Linked DNA regions of Homo sapiens. The protein of the gene in region 1 interacts with the protein of each later gene in a pairwise test. Each region holds a gene or a part of one and is shown on either strand. Other genes may lie near its edges. The genes, in order: REL, UBASH3B, CDK18, PELI2, YJU2, CHIC2 and CHCHD2.

The links.
Region 2: the proteins of REL (region 1) and UBASH3B interact in binary tests that used the Homo sapiens proteins (3 or more experiments, as listed by UniProt).
Region 3: the proteins of REL (region 1) and CDK18 interact in binary tests that used the Homo sapiens proteins (3 or more experiments, as listed by UniProt).
Region 4: the proteins of REL (region 1) and PELI2 interact in binary tests that used the Homo sapiens proteins (3 or more experiments, as listed by UniProt).
Region 5: the proteins of REL (region 1) and YJU2 interact in binary tests that used the Homo sapiens proteins (3 or more experiments, as listed by UniProt).
Region 6: the proteins of REL (region 1) and CHIC2 interact in binary tests that used the Homo sapiens proteins (3 or more experiments, as listed by UniProt).
Region 7: the proteins of REL (region 1) and CHCHD2 interact in binary tests that used the Homo sapiens proteins (3 or more experiments, as listed by UniProt).

The regions. Positions count from the first base shown.
Region 1 is NC_000002.12:60,919,574-60,923,073, forward strand, and holds part of REL (proto-oncogene c-Rel), read left to right. Parts: intron 1-467; coding exon 468-536; intron 537-809; coding exon of another isoform or gene 810-905; intron 906-1,000; coding exon 1,001-1,069; intron 1,070-2,189; coding exon 2,190-2,962; 3' UTR 2,963-3,500. UniProt on the Homo sapiens protein: Proto-oncogene that may play a role in differentiation and lymphopoiesis.
Region 2 is NC_000011.10:122,658,722-122,662,221, forward strand, and holds part of UBASH3B (ubiquitin-associated and SH3 domain-containing protein B), read left to right. Parts: intron 1-3,500. UniProt on the Homo sapiens protein: Interferes with CBL-mediated down-regulation and degradation of receptor-type tyrosine kinases. Promotes accumulation of activated target receptors, such as T-cell receptors and EGFR, on the cell surface.
Region 3 is NC_000001.11:205,521,669-205,525,168, reverse strand, and holds part of CDK18 (cyclin-dependent kinase 18), read right to left. Parts: intron 2,023-3,500; 5' UTR 2,002-2,022; coding exon 1,872-2,001; intron 1,687-1,871; coding exon 1,544-1,686; coding exon of another isoform or gene 1,454-1,543; intron 938-1,453; coding exon 812-937; intron 31-811; coding exon 1-30. UniProt on the Homo sapiens protein: May play a role in signal transduction cascades in terminally differentiated cells.
Region 4 is NC_000014.9:56,296,411-56,299,217, forward strand, and holds part of PELI2 (E3 ubiquitin-protein ligase pellino homolog 2), read left to right. Parts: intron 1-189; coding exon 190-756; 3' UTR 757-2,807. UniProt on the Homo sapiens protein: E3 ubiquitin ligase catalyzing the covalent attachment of ubiquitin moieties onto substrate proteins. Involved in the TLR and IL-1 signaling pathways via interaction with the complex containing IRAK kinases and TRAF6.
Region 5 is NC_000019.10:4,264,080-4,266,833, forward strand, and holds part of YJU2 (splicing factor YJU2), read left to right. Parts: intron 1-2,754.
Region 6 is NC_000004.12:54,054,606-54,058,105, forward strand, and holds part of CHIC2 (cysteine-rich hydrophobic domain-containing protein 2), read right to left. Parts: intron 1-3,500.
Region 7 is NC_000007.14:56,103,677-56,107,712, forward strand, and holds the start of CHCHD2 (coiled-coil-helix-coiled-coil-helix domain-containing protein 2 isoform 2 precursor), read right to left. Parts: upstream 2,801-4,036; 5' UTR 2,738-2,800; coding exon 2,688-2,737; intron 800-2,687; coding exon 550-799; intron 1-549. UniProt on the Homo sapiens protein: Transcription factor. Binds to the oxygen responsive element of COX4I2 and activates its transcription under hypoxia conditions (4% oxygen), as well as normoxia conditions (20% oxygen).

The DNA.
Region 1 (3,500 bases):
CGCCACCACACCCGACTCATTTTGTATTTTTAGTAGAGATGGGGTTTCACCATGTTGGCCAGGCTGGTCTCAAACTCCTGACCTCAGGTGATTCACCCACCTCAGCCTCCCAAAGTGCTGGGATTGCAGGTATGAGCCACTGCGCCTGGCCAATTTTTCTGTTTTTTTATGGAGACAGGGTTTTGTCATGTTGCTTAGGTTGGCCTCAAACTCCTGCGCTCAAGTGATCCACCTGCCTCAGCCTCCCAAAGTGCTGAGATTACTTTAAACAATTTTTTACTAAGAGAAAAATATCCTTTTCTACTGATACTACTGATTTGGGACATATTCTATAATACTTATTAAATCCAACTTACATACATATTTATTGAAAACATTTTCTATATGTGAATAAAATATTTGTTTATTAAAGGAGAGGATACAATCCTATAATTTTTTATCTGCTTTCCTGGTTTCTTTCTAATCAGATACTTACGGCAATAAAGCAAAGAAACAAAAGACAACTCTGCTTTTCCAGAAACTGTGCCAGGATCACGGTAAGAATAGTTTGGATCGATTCATATTTAAATAGGTTTTGTTTTATTTACTTTATTCAGTTTTTCAAATTTTATTATTTTTGTTTTGTTTTGTTGTTTGTTTGTTTTTTGAGATAGCATCTCTCTCTGTCACCCAGGCTGGAGTGCAGTAGGGCAATCTCAACTCACTGCAACCTCTGCCCCCCAGGTTCAACAATTCTCCTGCCTCAGCCTCCCGGGTAGCTGAGATTACAGGCATGTGCCACCACACCCGGCTAATTTTTGTATTTTTAGTAGAAACAGGGTTTCGCCATGTTGACCAGGATGGTCTTGAACTCCTGACATCAGGTGATCCACCCACCTTGGCCTCCCAAAGTGCTGGGATTACAGGTGGGAGCCACCACGCCCGGCCAGTTTTTCAGATTTTAACTGATAATGTTATTTTTCAAATGACATTTAATAATGGAAAAACTTTATCCTAACAGTTAATTTTCCTGAGAGACCAAGACCTGGTCTCCTCGGTTCAATTGGAGAAGGAAGATACTTCAAAAAAGGTATTTTATTTCCTATAGCATATTTCTTGTGATCAGAAAGACCAGTACTTTGCACAATATATTGGAATTCTATTTTTAGGAATGAATAACTGCTTCTTTGAAAATTTTCTCTCCAGATTTTTCATGCTTTCAGTATAGAATGAATTAAGCATGGCTTCTGAAGGTTGTGTTAGAAACTGATTATGTTTTTGGGATTTATTGTTCAAGAAATTACATGTTGTTCATATGGTAGCAATTTTATTAATTACATTGCGTTATGAAAAAATGTTACTGATTTGGTTAGTTACCTGTTTTTATAAATAACATTTTACTGGAACACGGCCATGAATATTTGATTAAATATTATCTCTAAACTGCTTTTTTTTTTTAACACTATGGCAACAGGGTTGAATAGTTCCAACAGAGGCTGTATATAGCTCACAAAGCCTAAAATATTTACAATCTGACTTTTTACAGAAAAAAAAATTGCCAATCCCTAGTTTAGGTAATTCAACCGAGGGCTAATTAGAAGAAGTCTTTTTTCCCCCACGTACATTCTTAAATCATTGCTTTTTCCTGGTTTAGTTTGTAAAGCATTTGTATAATATGTAAATAGATACAGAATTAATTTTTTCTGTAATTTTTTTCTGACTGTGAATTTTATAGTCTCTTAGGGTTCTGTTGTAATATATCTTAAAAGTTATGTGTATTTTCTTATCCCTAATGAGTGTTGTCTCCATCCTTCCATTTTCTCCTAAAAGTGAAGAGTAAGAGATGATTTTGGCTATTTGGAATCCCATTAATTGTAATTCTAATATTTATCTTTTAGTTTTCAAAAATACCTTTATAGAGCCTCAGAAACTAGATTTTCATATTTAATTGAAGTGAAATTACATATGCCAAAGTAACTTGCCAAAATCATTTTACCTGTATTTGTAAAATGGTATATACGTTACAGAATTTCATTTTGGATTCGTGTAATAATTTTAGTGCTTTTTACATTTTTTTATTTGAAATGTTACATTGGTTTCCTTGACATTTTTCTTTATATATATTTGTGTGCTTATGCAATTTTAATTTAGAAATGCTTTTTATAATTTTGTTCATTTTAATTTCGTAAAATAAATTTTTCCTCCCACAGAACCAAACTTGTTTTCTCATGATGCAGTTGTGAGAGAAATGCCTACAGGGGTTTCAAGTCAAGCAGAATCCTACTATCCCTCACCTGGGCCCATCTCAAGTGGATTGTCACATCATGCCTCAATGGCACCTCTGCCTTCTTCAAGCTGGTCATCAGTGGCCCACCCCACCCCACGCTCAGGCAATACAAACCCACTGAGTAGTTTTTCAACAAGGACACTTCCTTCTAATTCGCAAGGTATCCCACCATTCCTGAGAATACCTGTTGGGAATGATTTAAATGCTTCTAATGCTTGCATTTACAACAATGCCGATGACATAGTCGGAATGGAAGCGTCATCCATGCCATCAGCAGATTTATATGGTATTTCTGATCCCAACATGCTGTCTAATTGTTCTGTGAATATGATGACAACCAGCAGTGACAGCATGGGAGAGACTGATAATCCAAGACTTCTGAGCATGAATCTTGAAAACCCCTCATGTAATTCAGTGTTAGACCCAAGAGACTTGAGACAGCTCCATCAGATGTCCTCTTCCAGTATGTCAGCAGGCGCCAATTCCAATACTACTGTTTTTGTTTCACAATCAGATGCATTTGAGGGATCTGACTTCAGTTGTGCAGATAACAGCATGATAAATGAGTCGGGACCATCAAACAGTACTAATCCAAACAGTCATGGTTTTGTTCAAGATAGTCAGTATTCAGGTATTGGCAGTATGCAAAATGAGCAATTGAGTGACTCCTTTCCATATGAATTTTTTCAAGTATAACTTGCAAGATTTAAATCCTTTTAAATCTTGATACCACCTATATAGATGCAGCATTTTGTATTTGTCTAACTGGGGATATAATACTATATTTATACTGTATATATAATACTGACTGAGAATATAATACTGTATTTGAGAATATAAAAAACTTTTTTCAGGGAAGAAGCATACAACTTTGGACATAGCGAATACAAAATTGGAAGCTGTCATAAAAAGACAACTCAGAGGCCAGGCGCAGGGGCTCACACCTGTAATCCTAGCACTTTGGGAGGCCAAGGCGGGTGGATCACTTGAGACCAGGAATTCGAGACCAGCCTGGCCAACATGGTGAAACCCCGTCTCTACTAAAAATACAAAAATTAGCTGAGCATGGTGGTACGTGCCTGTACTGTCAGCTACTTGGGAGGCTGAGGCACAATAATTGTTTGAACCCAGGAAGCAGAGGTTGCAGTGAGCTGAGATCACACCACCGCACTCCAGCCTGGGTGACAGAGTGAGACTCTGTCTCAAAAAAAAAAAAACAAAAAAAACACACTTT
Region 2 (3,500 bases), on another chromosome or scaffold:
CAGGATAGAAATGATTGAATGTGGGTAAAATGCTTAGAACAGTTCCTGGCACATAGTGAGCAATCGTGAAGTGTTAGTTACTGTATTAGCTTCCTGTGACTGCTGTAACAAATTGTCACAAACTGAGTGGCTTAGAACAGCAGAAATTTATTCTCTCACAATTGTAGAGACCAGGAGTTGAAAATCAGTATCGCTGGGCTGAAATCAAGGCATCAGCAGGGCCGTGCTCCCTCTGGAGGCTCTAGGGGAATCCACTCCCTGCCTCTCCTACCTTCTGTTGGGGGCTGGCATTCTTTGGCTTGTGGCTGCATCAATCCAATCACTGCGTTTGTGGTCAAATTGTCTTTGTTTTCTGTCTGTGTCCAATCTTCCTTGGCATGTCTCTTATAAGGATACATGTGGTTGTACTTAGGGCCCACTTGGATAATCCAGAGTAATCTCCCCATCTCAAGATCATTATCTGCAAAGTCCTTTAAAAAAAAATGTATAAGGCGGCATTCACAGCTTCTAGGGATTAGGATGTGGGTGTCTTTTGGGGGATCATTATTTAGCCTATCACAGCTATTATTATATTACTACTAGCACTGCCCCTCTTTACCAAAGAGGTAACAAGAGCAGGCCTGGAGAGAGGGAGGTTGGGTTTGCTGCTCTTTTTCTTAAATTCTCTGCCTGGAAGGGAGTGAAGGTCCTGGAGGTCACCTGATCTAGTTGGACTCCTTGCCCAGGCTTGCTTCCCTCCTCTACTTCAACCCAGAAAGGCTGATGTGGTCGGCCTTCCCCCCAGTAACTTAGACCAGTATGAAGAGGGGCCCTCGGAGGCTTCAGAGAACAGGCATTTAACTTCATTTTTGAGAGTTGAGAAGAAAGAGCAAGGGCATCGGGCTTAGCTCATCAGAAGCTTCTCTCTTGAGCTTTATGCCTGGAGGGCTGAGCATAATGAAAATCCAAAGCCCCAAAGAGCAGTGATGGTCTCCTGGGTCTAGAAGACTTGGATGTGATGCTTTAAGAAGGGGTAAGATGGTTGTCTCAAACCTGGCCCTTTTGACAGACTGACATTAGCCAGGGCTGACAGCTCTAGGCCCTTTTGACAGAGTGACAGCAGCCAGGGCTGACAGCTCTAGTTTCCCCTATGGGTGTAACTGGGTCTGGTGGTGTGCGGCACCAAGAAGGGGCACTCAGGCCAGGCTCTTGGTGGGCTGGCAGAGAGGGTTGAGGCCAGCAAGGCTGGATCCCACCCAGCCCGTGCTGGGCTGCACTGTGCTGTGGTCTTGCAAAAGTCACTTAGTCCCCTCAGGGCCATGCTGTTGCCCTCTGAGGGGAACGCAATTAATGACTGCATGCTTGTTAAGTGCTTGACAGAGCTAAGAGGACCAGAGGGCTGCAGGGCTGGCTCAAGCAGGGTGACCTCAGGGTGTGCTCTCTCTAGCTCATTACTCCCTGGAGCTGGGCTAGGTTTTTTCCATTCCACTATATGAACTTCAGTCCAACTTAGACACTGCTATAGGAGAATTTGCCTCATGGAGGACTGAGAAGTGGCGATTTCACGGTGTGTGTGTGCGTGTGCGCTCGTGTGCAAGTCCAAGTTAAGGAGGTGTTCGGGAGGCATCAGGAAGGAAACCTTTCAAAGGTCAAAATGGCCAATCGCTTCCTTTTTTCTATGCCCACTAGCACTTCCCTGTTTTAAGGGTTCTAAAAATAAGGGTCCAGCTTCCTTGAGGCTAGTGAGGTTGGTTGGAAGGAAAAGAAAGAATGTATTGGGGGCAAAGACCTGAGGAAGAGGAGACCTCACAGGCCAGGAGAGGGTCTGAGCCTAACACCGGAGAAGATGGGACAGGACTCAGATCAGAGCCATCACTTTGCACAGCCAGATCCGATGTCAGAGCACTGTCATCCCCCTGCTGACCTCTGGTTTCTGGGGAGACAGGCTCTCATCTCTTCTGTAGCTTGGGGCTGATGCTGGGCCTTGGAGCAAGTCACTGAATAATTGAATTGGAGGAATCCTTGCTGATACAACCCTGATGAGTTTTTTTATTATTTTTATTTTTTGAGGCTGCTGGTGGCTAGAACTTTGTCTACAACAAATGGCTTTTTAATGTTTCCAGTGATTAAGAGATAATAGTCTTGGGAAGGACACTGTGGCAGGGATCAAAGGTCCTAAGGTCTGGTCTAGCTTCTGAATGATATCTGCACCTTTTAGGTCTTCTATTTAACCTCTTTTCCTTAATATCTTCACCAGCTTCTGTGCGTGGCAAGACCTGTCATGTGTCACGGGCCTTTCCAAAGACAAAATGAGATAACAGACAGAAAAGAACTTGGGAAAGTTAAAGATAGGATCAGGATGCAAGATGTGATTGGGGCATTATTGTGTTGGATTGCAAGAAGGGAGAGGAGGTGAGATGGTGGTTGAGGTGTCTGGCGAGGATTTACGTGTATTATTGGATTGTCCTTTTTTTTCTACTGAGAATATTTGAACAATGCCAAATTAAAGAGCAAGGCAGTGGCAGAAGGAAAGAGCTGGAATGAGCGCTTTTGACTTGGCTTTGGACAGTAAGCTGTGTTAGCTATGCCTCACTGCCCAAAGATAAAAGCAGCTCCAAGTTGGCTGCATGAGGAGTTGAGAAGCGGCATGTGGAGCCCATGAATTAAAGTATCTGGTTTCCCTGGCTTTTTCCAGCTTACCTGTTGGTTGACATTGGATCCTCTGAGAACACTTGGCCAACCCAACATCTCTGAAATGTAGCTGACTCTGGCGTGGGGGCTGCAGCTGCTTTCCCAGCCTTGGATAGACAGAAAGAGGAAAAACTGGAACCCACCTGGAGCTGAAGGGCTCTTATAGGTGGGCAGGGCAAGGAAGTCTCTAATCTACCTGCTGTGACTGTGCACCCACATAACACGCCCTTCTATCTGTGTTATTATACACTGTAAAAATTGCTCTTATGTGTATTAGATACCCCACAGCAGTCTTGTGAGGTAAAGCACACAACATATGCTTTGTTTTAAGATGAGACTGGAGGCTTAGAGGAGTTCAGGACGTGTCTAGAGTCACACAGTTGGTATGCAGGGACTGCATTGCCATAAGAGCCTCAGGCTAAACTGCAAGTCTCCTGAACTTTCCAGGCTACACGAGGTCCTGGTTCCAAAAAAAAAAAAAACAAAAAAAAAAATACCTTGATATGCTTTTTTTCTTTTTTTTTTTTTTTTTGAGACAGAGTTTCGTTCTTGTTGCCCAAGCTGGAGTGCAATGGCGTGATCTCAGCTCACTGCAACCTCTGCCTCCTAGGTGTCAAGTGATTCTCCTGCCTTAGCCTCCCAAGTAGCTAGGACTACAGGTATGTGCCATCATGCCCAGCTAATTTTGTATTTTTAGTAGGGACAGAGTTTTATCATGTTGGTCAGGCTGGTCTCGAACTCCTGACCTCAAGTGATCATCCCGCCTTGGCCTCCCAAAGTGCTGGGATTACAGGTGGGAGCCACCCTGCCCGGCCAGCCGATGTGCTTTT
Region 3 (3,500 bases), on another chromosome or scaffold:
TGTTTCCAGTTTCCCAAAGCCAATGTCTGACTGAGAGGGAGAGACATAGAATGCCGTGAGCTTGAAGCCCTTAGCAGCTCCACAGACATGACGCCTCCCCCAACTCCAGCCTCTGGGAGGGAAGGGATGAGACTCCATGGTGGAAGGGGCTCCTTTTCCCTTTATCCCTGTGATAAAGGACAGAGCTCGTGAAAGTGTGAGTTTCTTCCTCCCAGGACAGCCAAGAGTGTAGAGCCCAGAGCTGTGGCACCTGGGATTGTTGCACATCTTGACTACCTGTGTCTCCGACTGAGACCACGAGCTCCTCCAGAGTGAGTGCTGCCTTTTTTCCCATTGTACCTTGAGTGTCCAGTTCAGAATCCACCTCTCTGACTGTGTCTCTCATCAGCGCACTTCTAGCTCAGGTGTATCCAACCCTTAACAAGACGGATTCCTGGACCCCCTAGCCGGAGAGGCTGATTCTATAGGTGTCTGGAGGTAGAGTCTGTGTTTTGTAAGATGTCCCAAACAGCTCTGATAGGCAGTTAGGACTGGAAGGCACATGCCAGCTGGCCTATTGATCTTAACCATGTGGAGACCGTGGGACCCACTGTGGGCTTAGAGTCCCATTCCAGCCCAAGTGAGACCCATCTAGGAAATGGATGTTGATGTAGGAGGACGAGCTAGTTGAATGCACTCAAGCCAGCAGGTGGCACCAGAGGCCCAGGAATCTTCCTCGAAATCCCATCTAGGCCTCAGCTGGGACTGATATGCCCATGCTGGGGAGGGCATATCACCCCACCTTGTGTCCTCTGACCCTCTTGGGACTCACCAGGGAGGCCCGGCGGGACATGCGGCTGAGCGGCTTGGGCAGATCTGGGCTCTCCATCTGTAGCTTCTGTAGGAATTCCTGGGGCAGGCGGATATCCATGGGCAGAGAGAGCCTCTTGCTGACGTCCTGTGGTGACAGGGATGAGATGGGGACACCACTGTTGGTTTCAGGGTAGCTAGGGCTGTGGGGCTCCAGACTTTCACTCTGGACCTAGCGTTCCCTGCAGAACAACCATTCAGAGCCCAATCACAGGCTGTGACCCCAGGCTCACAGCTGCTCCCAGTGTGTGCTCAAGACATACACGTGAACACCCGGGGCTGCTGTGTGACCTTAGCACAGCCAGGTCACTCTCTGCCTCTCTGGGCCACAGTATCACCATCTGTGCAACATCAGTCTCATGCCCTTACAGGCACCGATTCTGTAAGTATATTTTTTCATATACTTGGGCATATGTGTGTGGATCAAATAGTCAAATTGTCTAGCCCTTGCTAAATTCAGGAATGTTCTAAGCACTTGGCATAGATAAACCCATTTAATCCATGATGACCATTTTAAAGACAAGGAGACCATGGTGCACAGAGGTTGAGTAACTTGCTCAAAGTCACAGAGCTAATGAATGGCAGAGGTGGAATTTGAACTCACAAAGTCTGGCTGTAAGGCAGCTGCCCTCCTGTGCACACCCTTGTGCGTGCATCCTGCCACCTGCCGGGGCAGAGCTCCAGAGGCCCTTACCTCCATGGAGAAGCGGCGCTGGTTCTGCCGCCGCTGGAACTGCACGCCAGGGGAGAGCTGCCCCGGCTCCTCCCCGCTGTCTGTTGGGGAGAAGGTGCTGCACTCCTGCGGGGGGTCTCTGCCAAGAGGACCGAGCTGCAAGTCTAAGAGGGACAGGCGTCAGCTCCCCTCCCTGCCTCTCTGTCCTGAGGGAGAGAAGGGTAGCCCCCCTCCCCCAGCGCTGTGCTCCTCCCCTAAGGCCAGTGGGGAGGGGGTGGGCGGGGAGGGGAAGGTGACTGGGGAGTGTCTGGTAGGTGGGAGAGGTGCTGGGTGGGCCCAGACCCCTCACTCTCATTCCGCCGGTTGTGGAGCTGGTTGAATTGCTCCGTGAATTCAGCCAAGGATTCTTCAATGGTCTCAGTGCGGGGCACTGACAGGGAGAAACGGCGCTTAAAGTTCTTCATCTTGTTCATGATCATGAGGGACTGGGCAGCCGGGTCCTGAGATGGGAAGTGTGAGAAGAGCAGTTGAAAAGAACAAGGCAACCAGTCCAGGTCTCCACCCACTGGGAATTCAGCTCTCTCATCAAGCTCTGTCGCCCTGTATGCCACCATCACTGGGAGCCAGGGTTGTGTCTTCTGCAAAGTTTGACCCCTCTGAGGGTGGGTGTTCACCCTCTTCTTCCCAGTCACCTTCTTCCTCCCAGTGACCCTCAGCACTGCCTCCACTGCCCACCGCCCGCCCCGCCACGCCCTGTGCAGTTCTCTATGGACCACCTAGTCCAGCAAAGTATTGGTCATAATAGCAGGCATGATGTGCAAAGAGGATCCTGAAGGCCCCCCAGACCTAAGCCCTTTAGCTGCTGGAGGTCTAGAGAGTTCTGGGGGAAGGGCTGGGGTGGCAGGGAGGGTGCCAGAACCAGGCAGTCCTTGGACCAGCAGAAATTTACCAACTTGTGTCCAAGGGCCTGAATGTGTCAACAGCCAATAAATCTTACTGACCAAGGCCCGTAAACTGAATGTCAGCTTGGCCAACACCCTTGGGACATGATTGGGTCCAAACCTCATTTCACCTCTGATACTGACACCTGAAGGTCTCTGCTCTGGCATGCCCCAGGAGGCAAGAGGGGAAAAAGAGGAGGAAGGGAAGAGTGCATCAGAGCTGGCCAGCTGCACCTTCTCTCCAGCTGAAATACAGGAGGTCAGGAGCAGTGGAAGGTCTCAGGGGAAACACGGAAGCTTGCCATTAATAGAGTCGAGCCCTAGGGAAGATGAGGCTTGATCCCTGCAGGCCTCTTCCCATGCCAGAGCCCTCCAAGCAGGCAGGTATCCCCTACCGAGAACACCATGGAGGAGCGGGGTAAGCTGCTCTGCCCACCCCCACGGTCCTGTCCCCAACCATGAAAGCTTTCTTCTTCAGGCTACCCAGCTCCTCGTGCCCTCTGAATTAGAGGATGCCCTGCTGGCCACCCAATGAGACCCATGCAACTGCTTCTTCCTGCAGACCCTCCCTTCTCCCTCCTGCCCTGAAAACCCAGAGCAGCGCTGTCTCACCTCCCCTCCACTTCCCTTCATGGTTTCCTACACGCTCAGTGCAGCCCCCCTCTCATCCTGCTCTGCACACACTGCCCTTGAGGCCTCACAAGGGCTTCCACCCATGCTGGCAAGAAGGCACCAGGGGGTGAGCCCTATGATGGGCCGCCCTGCACCCGCTCCCAGCTGTTACCCATGCACCAGCACCAGGCACAGCCCACTCCTGGAGGATGCTCTCAGCCCTGCGACTGGCCAGCACCTAGTTGCCAAGGCGACCAGGCCCTTCCCGAATCCTCCTGGTTTAAGGGATTATGGGTCAGTAACATGTTGGCTTTGCTTAATGATCACATCCTTCTGTCCTCAGCCAGCCTGGAAAGGGTCCTCTGTCTGGCAGCGCATGCTCCTGGCTGCCCCCAAACACAGCTCAGTGGTGGCCCTCCAGCTGC
Region 4 (2,807 bases), on another chromosome or scaffold:
TATCCAGTGATCAGATGAGGAAGATGAGGCTCGGGGAGGATAGGTTACTCCCCCAGTTCTGTTTTTGTGGGATAAATTGCTTCCCTGTGTTATCTTCAAATATTTTTTTGCTTGTTCTGAGAGGAAAGAATCTTGGAGTGATTTGCTTGATTTTGCTTTTAAAAGGCATGTGTCTCAAACTTGTTGTAGGTGGAAAGTGAGACCAACGTCCTGCAGGACGGCTCCCTCATTGACCTGTGTGGGGCCACTCTCCTCTGGAGAACAGCAGATGGGCTTTTTCATACTCCAACTCAGAAGCACATAGAAGCCCTCCGGCAGGAGATTAACGCCGCCCGGCCTCAGTGTCCTGTGGGGCTCAACACCCTGGCCTTCCCCAGCATCAACAGGAAAGAGGTGGTGGAGGAGAAGCAGCCCTGGGCATATCTCAGTTGTGGCCACGTGCACGGGTACCACAACTGGGGCCATCGGAGTGACACGGAGGCCAACGAGAGGGAGTGTCCCATGTGCAGGACTGTGGGCCCCTATGTGCCTCTCTGGCTTGGCTGTGAGGCAGGATTTTATGTAGACGCAGGACCGCCAACTCATGCTTTCACTCCCTGTGGACACGTGTGCTCGGAGAAGTCTGCAAAATACTGGTCTCAGATCCCGTTGCCTCATGGAACTCATGCATTTCACGCTGCTTGCCCTTTCTGTGCTACACAGCTGGTTGGGGAGCAAAACTGCATCAAATTAATTTTCCAAGGTCCAATTGACTGACGCCCTTGACAGCCATCTACGACTTTATTAACAGGTTACTGTGAAGATTTTGCCACTAACTCTAGATTTTACCTTTTTGTAATGCTGTTTATCAGAGGAGGGTGACAGGGGCTGGAAATAAAGAGAGGGGACATGGTGATGAAACATGGCAGGAGTGTAACAGATACCAGTGGTGTGTTGCATGCTCAAAACAGCAGCGTCGTCATTGAAGTCTGCTTGATTAAACCATAATATCTTTGTAATAATTGGATTTAAAATGCTATGCTTCTATTTTTAACCTTGGGTTTTTAACCAAGTTTTTTTTTTTTTGTAATCTTGGACAAGACTTTAAATCATATTTTACAGATGTAGAAGAAATTTATTCAAAAGTGTGGGCTCATGAAGTTCACTTCAGTGCAGTGTGGTGTAGGTGTTACGCGAAGGGCGCACAGTGTCTAGAAATACTTGATCGTGGCTCAAACCTGACCAGACAGCAGAGGGGCGGCTCTGTACAGTGTGACTGGTGGACAGATGGCCTTAGGCACAGGTGGTTTTGAAATCTGGGGCTTTTTCTGATTTATTTTTCTGACTTGTTGGGGGAGAGAATATTCATAACTTGTGGGCTTTTTTTTTTTTTAACTTCAGTGGAATTTACTTTAGATATTCATTCATCAAATACATGGGACTTCACAAACAATTTTCCATAACTTTTTAGCCTGTCTTTTGTTATTTCTGCCTAATATGATTTGCCCCGATACTCATCTTGCACGGCCAGAACTGTTTGGTTGATTAAAATACATCAGCTCTTAAAAACTCATTAACTGAGGGTAATTACAGTAGTAGACATGGTCTGGGTACTATACTACCATGTTTATTTGCTGACTGAATTAAGATTTAAGAATGATTAAAAATAAGCTTTTACTTTTTAAAACCACTTGAGGTTTCATAAAGCTTGGGGTTTTTTTTTTTCCTTTGTTAAGAAAGCCAACCAATCACAATGATATAGTCATTGTTGTGCACTCCCTTTTCACCATCTGTCACCTTCCCTTGCAGCTTAAGGAGCCCAGTAAGTTTTGAAAATGTTTGCGAATCAAACTAAATTTAAGTGGGATGATTAGATATACACAACACCAAGTGGTACATCTGCAGAGATAATTCAAAATTCCTGCTTTTGAGAGAGCAAATGAGTGTTGCTGAGGAATAATTAAATGAGAATTTCATAGGAGCTCCACCATTCCTGTTACTTTCATTTCATTTTGATTAATAATTCTTGGATGCTTGGCATCGATCGTATCACTGCTCCTAGAAGGTAAAGATCCTTTAGGACATGAGACTGGTAGAAGCTGGCTGAGATAAAATAAGTATTTATTTAAACTAATGTTCTCTTAATTTGACCATTGCAGATTTGGGTGACTTTTTTTTAACCTTTGTACATATACGTAATTTATATGATTCTAATGTACTATATCCATACTTGAATTGGTTTTTTCGTATTTTGCCTACTGGCAAATATTTTGCCTATTTTCAGTCGTTCTAACCTATTTGAATACGCTTTTCCTTAAAGTGATACGATAATATTACTCTTGATTGCTGCTGCTTAATTTGATGTAATATGTTTAAAGTTCAGCCTCTCAGTTTTAATATAGCTTTATTTTTCAGTGGAGATCATTGTTTAGGATGAGACATTTTTGGTTTTGGTTTTGTTTGGGTAAATTTTAAATGGTGTGAAAATCGATGACAACAGTCCTCTTACAGATAGCTTGCTGTATTCTGTATAGCTTACTCTACCTGCAGACAGAAAATGAAAGAAAAAAATGGACTTGCCTAGAATAATATATTGAATGCCTTTTGATTTAGCCAGAGTCTCTGATGATTAGCTTTCACTGATAGAGTATGTCTTTTCAGCCTGTAATTCTTTGGGCCCCAAAGAATGACAAAGGAGGCACTCGTTCTCTTTTCTTGCTGTATGCCTAGAAAGTGGTTGAAGGATTCTTGATGCCCTAAAACCATCTTGTAAGCTAAATGGTCTTGCATCCAGAAAGGCCAGATTTTACCTACCAAGAAAAAAAGAT
Region 5 (2,754 bases), on another chromosome or scaffold:
GTGAAACCCCATCTCTGCTAAAAATACAAAAAATTAGCCGGGCGTGGTGGCGGGCGCCTGTAGTCCCAGCTACTCAGGAGGCTGAGACAGGAGAATGGCGTGAACCCAGGAGGTGGAGCTTGCAGTGAGCCGAGATTGTGCCACTGCACTCCAGCCTGGGCGACAGAGCGAGACTCTGTCTCAAAAAAAAAAAAAAAAAAAAAAAAAGAAACGATTGTTCTTTCTTCCTTTTTTGTTTGTTTGTTTGACACAGGGTCTTACTCTGTTGCCCAGGCTGGAGTGCAGTAATGCAGTCCCAGCTCACTGCAGCCTGAACCTCCTAGGCTCAAGCAATCCTCCCACCTCAGTCTCCTGAGCAGCTGGGACCACAGGCACGCACCACCACGCCTGGCTAATTTTTCTTTTCTTTCTTTCTTTTTTTTTTTTTAGACAGTTTCACTCTTGTTGCCCAGGCTGGAGTGCAGTGGTGTGATCTTGGCTCACTGCAACCTTCGCCCCCCGGGTTCAAGCGATTCTACTGCCTCAGCCTCCCAAGTAGCTGGGATTACAGGCGCCTGCCACCATGCCCGGCTAATTTTTGTATTTTTAGTAGAGATGGCGTTTCACCATGTTGGCCAGGCTGATCTAGAACTCCTGACCTCAGGTGATTCACCTGACTCGGCCGCCCAAAGTGCTGGGATTACAGGCGTGAGCCACTGTGCCTGGCCCCTAATTTTTCAAATTCTTTTTGCAGAGATGCGGTCTTGCTGTGTTGCCCAGGCTGGTCTCACGCACCTGGCCTCAAGCAGTTCTCCCGCCAAGGCACAGGGATTACAGACATCAGCCACCATGTCTGGCCCCAAGACATTTTTCTAAAAGACATTTTCTTTGAAGCTGTGTCCTCTGATTAGAGTTCTCACACTGTGGTTCTCACATAAACCACTCCCAGAATTCATTGTCTACAACTTCCTCTCTTCTTTTCTTTTTTTTTTGAATGAATCAACAGAGTAAAGGTACTTTGAAAGCAGTCCAACCTTTTTTGATTTACTCCCTCAGTCTTGTGCCTCTACCTGATTTGATAGCAGGTGTTTTATTTGGTTTTAACGTGATTCACCTTCATCAAGACTTTTCAAACCTTCACCCTAACTTTTATAGGAAGGAATATCTCCACACTTGCGTTTTCTTGGTTTATTTTATTTTTATTTTAGAGATGAGGTCTTGCTCTGTCACCCAGGCTGGAGTGCAGTGACGCGATCACAGCTCGCTGCAGCCTCCAACTCCTGGGCTCAAATGATCCTCCCACCTCAGCCTCTCAAGTAGCTGGGACCCACAAGTGTGTAGTGTGTGCCACCACAGCCAGCTAATTTTTAATTTTCTTTTCTTTTTTTTTTTTTAGAGGCGAGTCTGTATGTTGTCTAGGCTGGTCTCAAACTCCTATCCTCAAGCAGTCCTCCCGCCTTGGCCTCCCAATCCTTAGTTTAGTTTAATGATGATGAGTACCACCTGTAGAAACAGGTTTGGGAACTAACCTAGGTAACTTTTTTTTTTTTGAGACGGTCTTGTTCTTTCGCCCAGGCTGGAGTGCAGTGGCACGGTCTCGGCTCACTGCAACCTCCGGCTCCCAGCCTGTAGCAATTGTCCTGCCTTAGCCTCCTGAGTAGCTGGGATTACAGGCGTGTGCTACCACACCTGGCTAGGTTTTGTATTTTCTTTTTATTAATAAAGAGACGGGGTTTCACCATGTTGACCAGGCTGGTCTCGAACTCTTGACCTCAAGTGGTCCACCCGCCTCGGCCTCCCAAAGTGTTGGGATTACAGGTGTGTGCCTCTGTGCCTGGCCATCTGTGCCTTTTGACTTCTTTTCCTCATTTTGACATCAGCCCAGAGCTACGACATTTTTTTTTTTTTTTTTCGAGACGGCGTCTCGCCCTGTCACCCAGGCTGGAGTGCAGTGGCACGATCTCGGCTCACTGCAACCTCTGCCTCCCAGGTTCAAGCGATTCTCCTGCCTCAGTCTCCCGAGTAGCTGGGATTACAGGCGTGTGCCACCAAGCCTGGCTAATTTCTTGTATTTATAGTAGAGACGGGCTTTCACCGTGTTAGCCAGGATGGTCTCTATCTGACCTCGTGATCCACCTGCCTTGGCCTCCCAAAGTGCCGGGATTAGAAGCATGAGCCACTGCGCCCGGCCCAGAGCCACAACTTTAAGGAGGCCTCTCCACCACCTTAGCAGTGGCCGCCCCTCACACCGTCAGCTTGGCACTCAAGGTCTCTGCCCATTCTCCATCCCACCTAGCCTGCCCTGGCACTTCCTGAATCACACTGTGGCTTCTCATCACGCCTTTACCCATGCCATTCCCCTTACCTGGGATGCCCCCTTTGCCAAGCACTCGCTTGGTGAACTCCTACTCGCCCTTCAATACCCAATGCAAGACGCCCTTCCTCTGAGAAGCTCATCCTCACAATTCAAGCTCACGCACCCTGGCTTCTCTCTCACCCAGATGGATGTTATCCTGGGTATTGGTCTCCTTGTCCCTCTCCCTCCCCACACGGTGAGCTCCGTGAGGGCAGAGCACCCATTGGGACTTCCTTAACCCAGTGGTTACCACTTCCTCTATTTAAACATAAAACAGATTGAAGAGGCTAGATGCAGTGGCTCACGCCTGTCATCCCAGCTCTTTGGGACGCTGAGACGGGAGGATCGCTTGAGCCAGGAGTTTGAGACCAGCCTGGGCAACATAGCGAGATCCCGTCTCTACAAAAATTAAAAATGTT
Region 6 (3,500 bases), on another chromosome or scaffold:
TCTGTTACTCCGCATGCCTAACTAGGAACTCCCTATACTTTGGCTAATTAGATCACAAGTGGGCATCTGCTTTAAGAACAGCTAATCCCTGGGCTGGGTAGCAGCACATGGAATGGCAAGGCCAAACAGTCCTGCCTAACTTAGATAACATTAACTAACTCAATCAGCTCTCTCTTGAGGTATCTGAACATAAGACAAATAGATGGTAACATGCAGAGCTGACAGAGAGAGGGCTTAAATTGAAGTCAAGATGTAGTAAAGCCATCGATAATTAGAAATCAAAATAAACTGAAGCCAATAGTAAGCAGAAACTGAGATCACCAGACAAGTAATGATGGGCCAGATCAGGGAGGGTCTGGTAGAACATTAAAAGGACTCTGAAGGAGATGGGGAACCTTTGAGGGGCCTGATACAGAGAAAAGACTTGAACTGACTTATGTTTTAAAAGGATCACTATAGCAGATGTACCAAAATGGTTGTATAAGAGGAGAGGCAAAGGTGGAAAGGTGGAGACAGGGGGAAGAAAAAAATATATATATATTTTTTGTAATTTAGATGGATTCTTGCTATGTTGCCCAGTGTAGTCTCAAACTCCTGGGCTCAAGTGATCTTTCTGCCTCAGCCTCCCGTGTAGCTGGGATTATAGGTACATGCCACCATAACTGACTTAAGAAATACATTAAGCGTAAGGCAGAAGGGAGACTGGCAATTCACTCCAGTCGTGTAGGTGGCAAAATAGGGCCAAATTTTGAAGACAGAGCCAAGATGTCAAGACAGAATGGATGTAGTGAAAGAGAAAGAGGAAAATCAAGAATACATCAAAAAGTTTTTGATCTAAACAAACAGGGTCCTCGATCTGCCATCAACTGAGAATGGAAGGCTGCCGTTGAAGCTGATTTGGGGTGTAGATTATGAATTCCATTTTGGATATTCTGGATTCTGAGACATTCCACCTGTACAAATCTATAGATACAGAGAATTTTTATGTTCCTACAGATATGACAAGACCTATGAGCATATGAACTAGAAATTTCAAACTGAACATATTGGTTATGCAGATGGCACATGAAGAGAGTGCTTATTTCCTAATGTTGAACTTTGAGCTCAATGAACTCAAATTTTTAGCTAGTTTTGGAGATAAAGTCATAACTATGGAAAAAAATTAACAGGCTTTGATGCATATAAATCATGCTTTAAGTTTATCTGGTTGATTCAACATACGTCTGAATATCAATGTAGCTCAAGGAGGATGGGATCTAATTGAAAGTATACTCTATTTATACAAAAGATACAGAGACCCTGGAGTTGGAGACGTATATTTGGGTTTCAGAATAATTCTAAAAATCTTAACTCTGTAACCACATTCTGAACAATATTTGAGTTCATCTGGTTTTATGAAAGTTTAATCTCATTCAGGAAACTAGTGAAATCAAAGACTTAATTCTCCAAAGCATGTGTTAAATTTACTCTATCATAAACCTCACCATTATACATAGTCTTATAATAATCTAGCATTAGCATTTTATCAATTTTTAATTATTAAGGTTATAATTTCCATTATTAACAGATTAAATATGTTGTTAAGCAGTGAAAGCTATATAAGTGTATACTGATGAAAATGCACAGTATAACTAACTTCTGGCGATATAGGGATGCAGCTGATCTAACTTAACAACTTTTAAATTTTCTGAACTACAGAAAAAAGATTTTTGTATATCTGATTTATACATATTTTAGAATATTCTTCATACTTCTATAAATCTTAAGAGCAAAATAATGATGCTAAATTATGTTCATTTAAGCAAAATATATGGTTGAATTGATTTACAATATAGACTAACAAAAATACTCATTTCAAGTAACATTTATAATTGAGCAGTTTAGAAAAGACCAAGAAAGGAGACTGGGTACATAGGAACTCCACCACTGAACTAACCAAGGCCCACATTATGACTACAATGCAAGATCAAAGAGAATAAAACAAGAAGTTCTTGCAGGAAGCTCACTATATATAGTACATTCACTTTTTTTATCAATCAAAATAACAAAGTTAGGTTACCTTCAAGTCCAACCAACTCTATCCTAAGTAGATAGTGGGAGAGAAAAAAAGCTTAAGAACAAAAAAATTATTCTTCAGGGACACTGTGAGAACATTTCAGCTCCTACGGATGCAACTGAGTTTTAAATGTAAGATATAAAAAACACAATTTTTTTCCTCAAATCTAATGAATCATGTACTGAGGGCTGTCACATACTACACACCTTACAGCTAAAGGATATCACATTTACGAGGGTTCCCACTTCAAAATCTATGATCTTGTGGGAAACACTCTCTACTTCTGGCATGTGCTATTCTCTTGGCATACTAGCTGCCCCAGCAGCAGAACAGAAAGTGCAGGTATGCCATCAAAATCACTCCCAGTGAACAGTAAGGGTAGCCAGTTATTTAACCTCAGCCTACACAAAGCTAAAATTAAAAAATAAACAGACCAAAACAAACATAAGAACTGAGGAATTAGACAGCAAAAGTGGCCACTGCTATGTATTTCCATACCTCATAGGAAAAGCTGTGAAATTTGATGGTTTACACACAGAACTGTAATAACTCCTTTAATCTAGAGATCAACACCCTAGCTGGGGCCACTATCATGTCTTATGGAAGCTGCTTCTATAACCTTCTAAATTTCATTCTAATTCCTTTACAATCCTTTCTGGCCCCTACTGAACCCTCCAACCTCATTTCAAGACATTATCCCCTTTGTTCACTATATTCTAGCCATAATATAGAGGTATCCTTTCAGTTCCTCAGGCAAGTCAAGCTTGTTTTGGCTTGGAGTCTTGGCACCTGCTGTTCTCCAGATCCAGGGGCTCCTGACAGGACTCTCATCCTTCCTAAATGTTAGCTTCCTCAGAGAGGTTCTTCCTAATCACATTATTTTCAATCACAGGATCTCATCCATTTCCTTCAGTGCAACTTTATCAGATAAAATTTGTCTATTAGCTGTAAACTCCATGAGGGCAGAAACTATGTGTGTTTCATTTTGGGTTTCATTATATACCCAGAGCTTTGTGCAATACCTGGCAGAAAAATGGGCATTTAACAAATACTCATTAAATTACTTATCAGGAAACCTCAACAAGACAGCTGATAATCAAAGATTAAGCAAAAAATACTCTGAGAAAACAAAATAAATATTGTAAAACCCAAGCATCAAAACCCAAGCATCTACATTCAACAATCAGGATGAACTTCTCTTACTTTATATGCAGTTCTAATAAGGCTGGTTGGTTGTTTTGCTTCCAAGAACAGCTGACCAATTACAAAGACAGAAGAAAGCAAACCAAAAAGAACAGCCCACATATGAAATTTAAATGAAAGTGCCATTTAGAGAAGGTTCTCAAACTCCAACATACCTCAGGGCCACTAAGGCATCACTGTGTATCAATCTGATAGCCGCTTTTGATTAAATGATTCCTCTAGTCAATTAGATAATTCTGAG
Region 7 (4,036 bases), on another chromosome or scaffold:
CAAATAAAGTGGAATTATTATCTTGTTATCAAGACTAAATGGTTTACTGAAGCTTCAGGGAGGAAAAATGGTACTATTATAGAAAACTGGATGGAGCAGTTTCAAGCACACCGGAAATACAAGAGTATACACACCTATGCTCATTAGACTAGAAAGCCCACACACATCAGAAAGATGGGTAATGGCAAACATCACGTAAAAGAACACACAGCTATGCGAGATTTTTGATTTGTTAACTAAGATCAAGACAAGATTAGTAGGAAGTGTCACTGGGATGAAATATTCAAAGGGAAAAGTGGTTGTTTTACAGTGAGTCAAGTGGACTGTTGTAAGTCTCCTCCTTGGGAAGAAACACAATTTGTACAGTACTTGTTGGTGCTGGCCTAAGGCAGTAACTCAACGGCCAAATGTGGCTTTAAAACCCATTGTCTATTAACAGCACAGTGGGTTCTAAAATCAAAGACAATTCCTACACTTAAGGAACTTACAAACGTCTGGCTTTTCTCATAAAATCCACCCATGGAAGGGAAATGCTGCCTAAATTCCCACCTGGTAAGTGATGTCAGGCCTCGCAGGCTCAGCATTACTTCCTCCACTGAAGCCCCCAGTAATGGCGTGACCCAATGTGTGCCCCACAGCAGAGCCCACAGCCACGCCAGCTGCAGTGGTTGCCATCTGGGCCATCAGACCTGGCTGCCGGGGCGCAGCAGCAGAAGAGCCAACTGCAGATGGGGGTGCCGCTGCTGGTGGCTGAGCGACTGGTGCTGGCCTGGGTGCAGCTCTCATCTGAGGGGCCCGGCTGTGAAAGAAAAGAAAAAAACATCAAGTTCCCAATTCCAACCAGTTTTGGAAATTGTCAACTTAAAATAACTTACATATTAAAATGGACCTCAAGATTTTCATTTCAAATTATTTACATCATTTTCTCTCTTCAATTTTTTTTTTTTTGAGATGGAGCTTCGCTCTTGTTGCCCAGGCTGGAGTGCAATGGTGCAATCTCAGCTCACTGCAACCTCCACCTCCCAGACTCAAGCGATTCTCTTGCCTCAGCCTTCCGAGTAGCTGGGATTACAGGCACCCGCGACCACCTCCGGCTAATTTTTTGTATTTTTAGTTGAGACGAGGTTTCACTATGGTGACCATGGCTGGTCTCCAGCTCCTGACCTCAGGTGATCCACCCGCCTCGGACTCCCAAAGTGCTGGGATTACAGGTGTGAACCACCACGCACGGCCTAATTTTTTTTTTTTTTTTGAGACAGGGCCTCACTCTGATGCCCAGACTGGAGTGCAGTGTCACGATCCAATCTCACTGCAACCTCTGCCTCCTGGGTTCAACCGATTCTTCTGCCTCCGCTTCCCAAGTAGCTGGGATTACAGGCGCGCACCACCACACCTAGCTAATTTTTGTATTTCTAGTAGAGACGGAGTTTCACCATGTTGGCCAGGCTCGTCTCGAACTCCTGACCTCAAGTGATCCACCCGCCTCGACCTCCCAAAGTGTTGGGATTACAGGCATGAGCCACCACGCCCGGCCACTTTAATCTTTTCTTATAATAGTAATAGCCTAGGACATACTAGTTTTTTCTGCTTCTTTGCAACAATTTCCATGTATTCGGATAGCCCACAGTATCTTTAAAGACATATCCAACATGTCATAAGAAATACAGACTACTAAAAGTTAGAAAGATTCTTACAGGATTCATTCATTCAAGTATTAGGTAACTACAAGGCGCTGGTAATGTAACTGTGAACAAGAGACAAAAATCTCTGCATTCATGGAGTTTACATTTTATTGACGGATCAAATAATTAACATAGGCTGCGGAGTGGTGGCTCTTGCCTGTAATCCCAGTGATTAGGGAAGTGGAGGCGAAAGGATCATTTGAGGCCAGGACTTTGAGACCAGCCAGGGCCACATAATGAGACCCTGTCTCTGCTAAAATATAAAATAGAATAAAGTCGCCAAGTGTGGTGCACAGGTGGCGCATGCCTGTAGTCCCAGTTACTCTGGAGGCTGACGTGGTAGAATAGCTTGAGCCCAGGAAGTCAAGGCTGCAGTTAGCCATAATTACGTCACTGCACTACAGCCTGAGTTAGACTCTGACTCAAAATATAAATAAATAAACATTCTAATTAGGACTTAAAGATGGTCAACTGGGGAAATAATCTAGTCCAATTCCTTCATTTTACACATTACAAAACAAGACTGGCCAAAGTGACTCGTCTGAACTATTATACCAAAAGCAACTTCAACTATTCCTCATCTGTTCAACGTTCAGATGCTTTCAACAATTTCGAGACCCCTTCTCAAATAACAAAAGACTAATTATGTCCTGCACGTATTTAAAAATCTTCATATGTATCACGCTCCCTCTGACCATTTCCGGATTATTTCCTTGGGTGCTCTTTTCCCCGAAATCAAGCTAGGTCAAAATTTATGCCTTCCTACCACCTGGCCATAACGTTATGCCTTTCCCGTTGTTTGGATAGGAAGCTTTTTCCGTAAGTGAATTCCCTCCCCACACTCCCCTAACATAGGCTTTACGTTCAATCTACCCCCGCCTGGCAGAGGCGAGCCCACGCCGCAGCCGACCTTAGTTCACCCCCGCCCGCGGCCTCCCTCTGCGTCATTGCCCCAGTAGAGTCCGGACGGCCGCGCTTTGGTCTCAAACCCTGCGATGGTCTCACCTGGCCGGAGGGGCCATGCGGGAGGTGCGGCTTCGGCTTCCACGCGGCATCCTAGGTAAGCGACGGCTAGGCCTCCGGACGTGGGACAACCACCGAAGAGCTAAGCGACTTCTGAGGAGACCGGAAGATGGGAGGCGGGGCTGGCCTCAACGCGCAACCAACCAGCACACAGGCAGAGAACTTCCGTTCTCCGTCGTCTCCGCAGGCCTGAAGTTCATTGGAAGAGCAGGACGTCACGGGGACGCCTCGTCCTTCGCGGTCAACGCCCTGAACTTGGCGCCAGGATCTTTAAAACCCGGAAGTTCCTGTGGTTCATCCGCGAACCTTGTCCTCCGGTCCTCGCATCAGAGCACTTAGCATTTTGCTTCCCTAGGGCAGCTGGCCTGTCGCTCCGTCCTTCAAACATTTGTATTAAATCCAACCTTAAGAGTGACTCACATCTCTGGCTGGATTGCCAGGGGACCTTGGGCAGATTTCTTAGCCTTTCTGAGCATTCAGTTATAAGGGCAAATATTTTTGGAGGCACAGTGTGGACGCGTAGTATGAACTGAATGAAAGAAATCGGTTTCGTCAAAAATAAACAGAGTTGAATTAGTTGTATTTGGTATTTCTCTTTCTTGTCTGTGGATCCAGTCAGCAAAAGTTAAATTCAGGCAGCAATAATGTTTTACATTTATGTATTACTATATATTTTCAGCTCCTTTTCATATGTATTATAGAATTTGTGTCCAGAATTGGGACAGTAACCATACACTGGTAAATTCAACAAAAATTTACTGTCTAACTGGGTTATGGAGATACTGCACCAAATCAGATAAGATTCTACCTTCACGAAGTTAAGTTTCAAGGAGGGGAGACACAAACGCCTACGTAAATCAGGTGGTGGTGACATGAAAAGAGAGGAAGGAGACTGGAAATTAGAGGTTAGGCGGGGCGGGGGGGAGTCATTTGAACGGAGCCCTTGAAGAGGTGGGGAAGCAAGCCATGTGTTTATGAAGATAAGAACACTACAGGAAGAGAGAACAGCAATTGCAAAGGCCCCAAGGATCTGTGCTTTAGTGATACTTGGTGTGAAATGCTTTTTTTTTTTTTTTGAGACGGAGTCTGGCTCTGTCGCCCAGGCTGGAGTGCAGTGGCGCGTTCTCAGCTCACTGCAGCCTCCGCCTCCCGGATTCAAGCGATTCTCCTGCCTCAGCCTTCCGAGTAGTTGGGATTACAGGCGCACGTCAACCCGCCTGGCTAATTTTTTATTTTAGTAGAAACAGGGTTTCGCCATGTTGGTCAGGCTGGTCTTGAGCTCTTGACCTCAGGTGATCCATCTACCTCGGCCTGCAAGGGCTGGGATTACA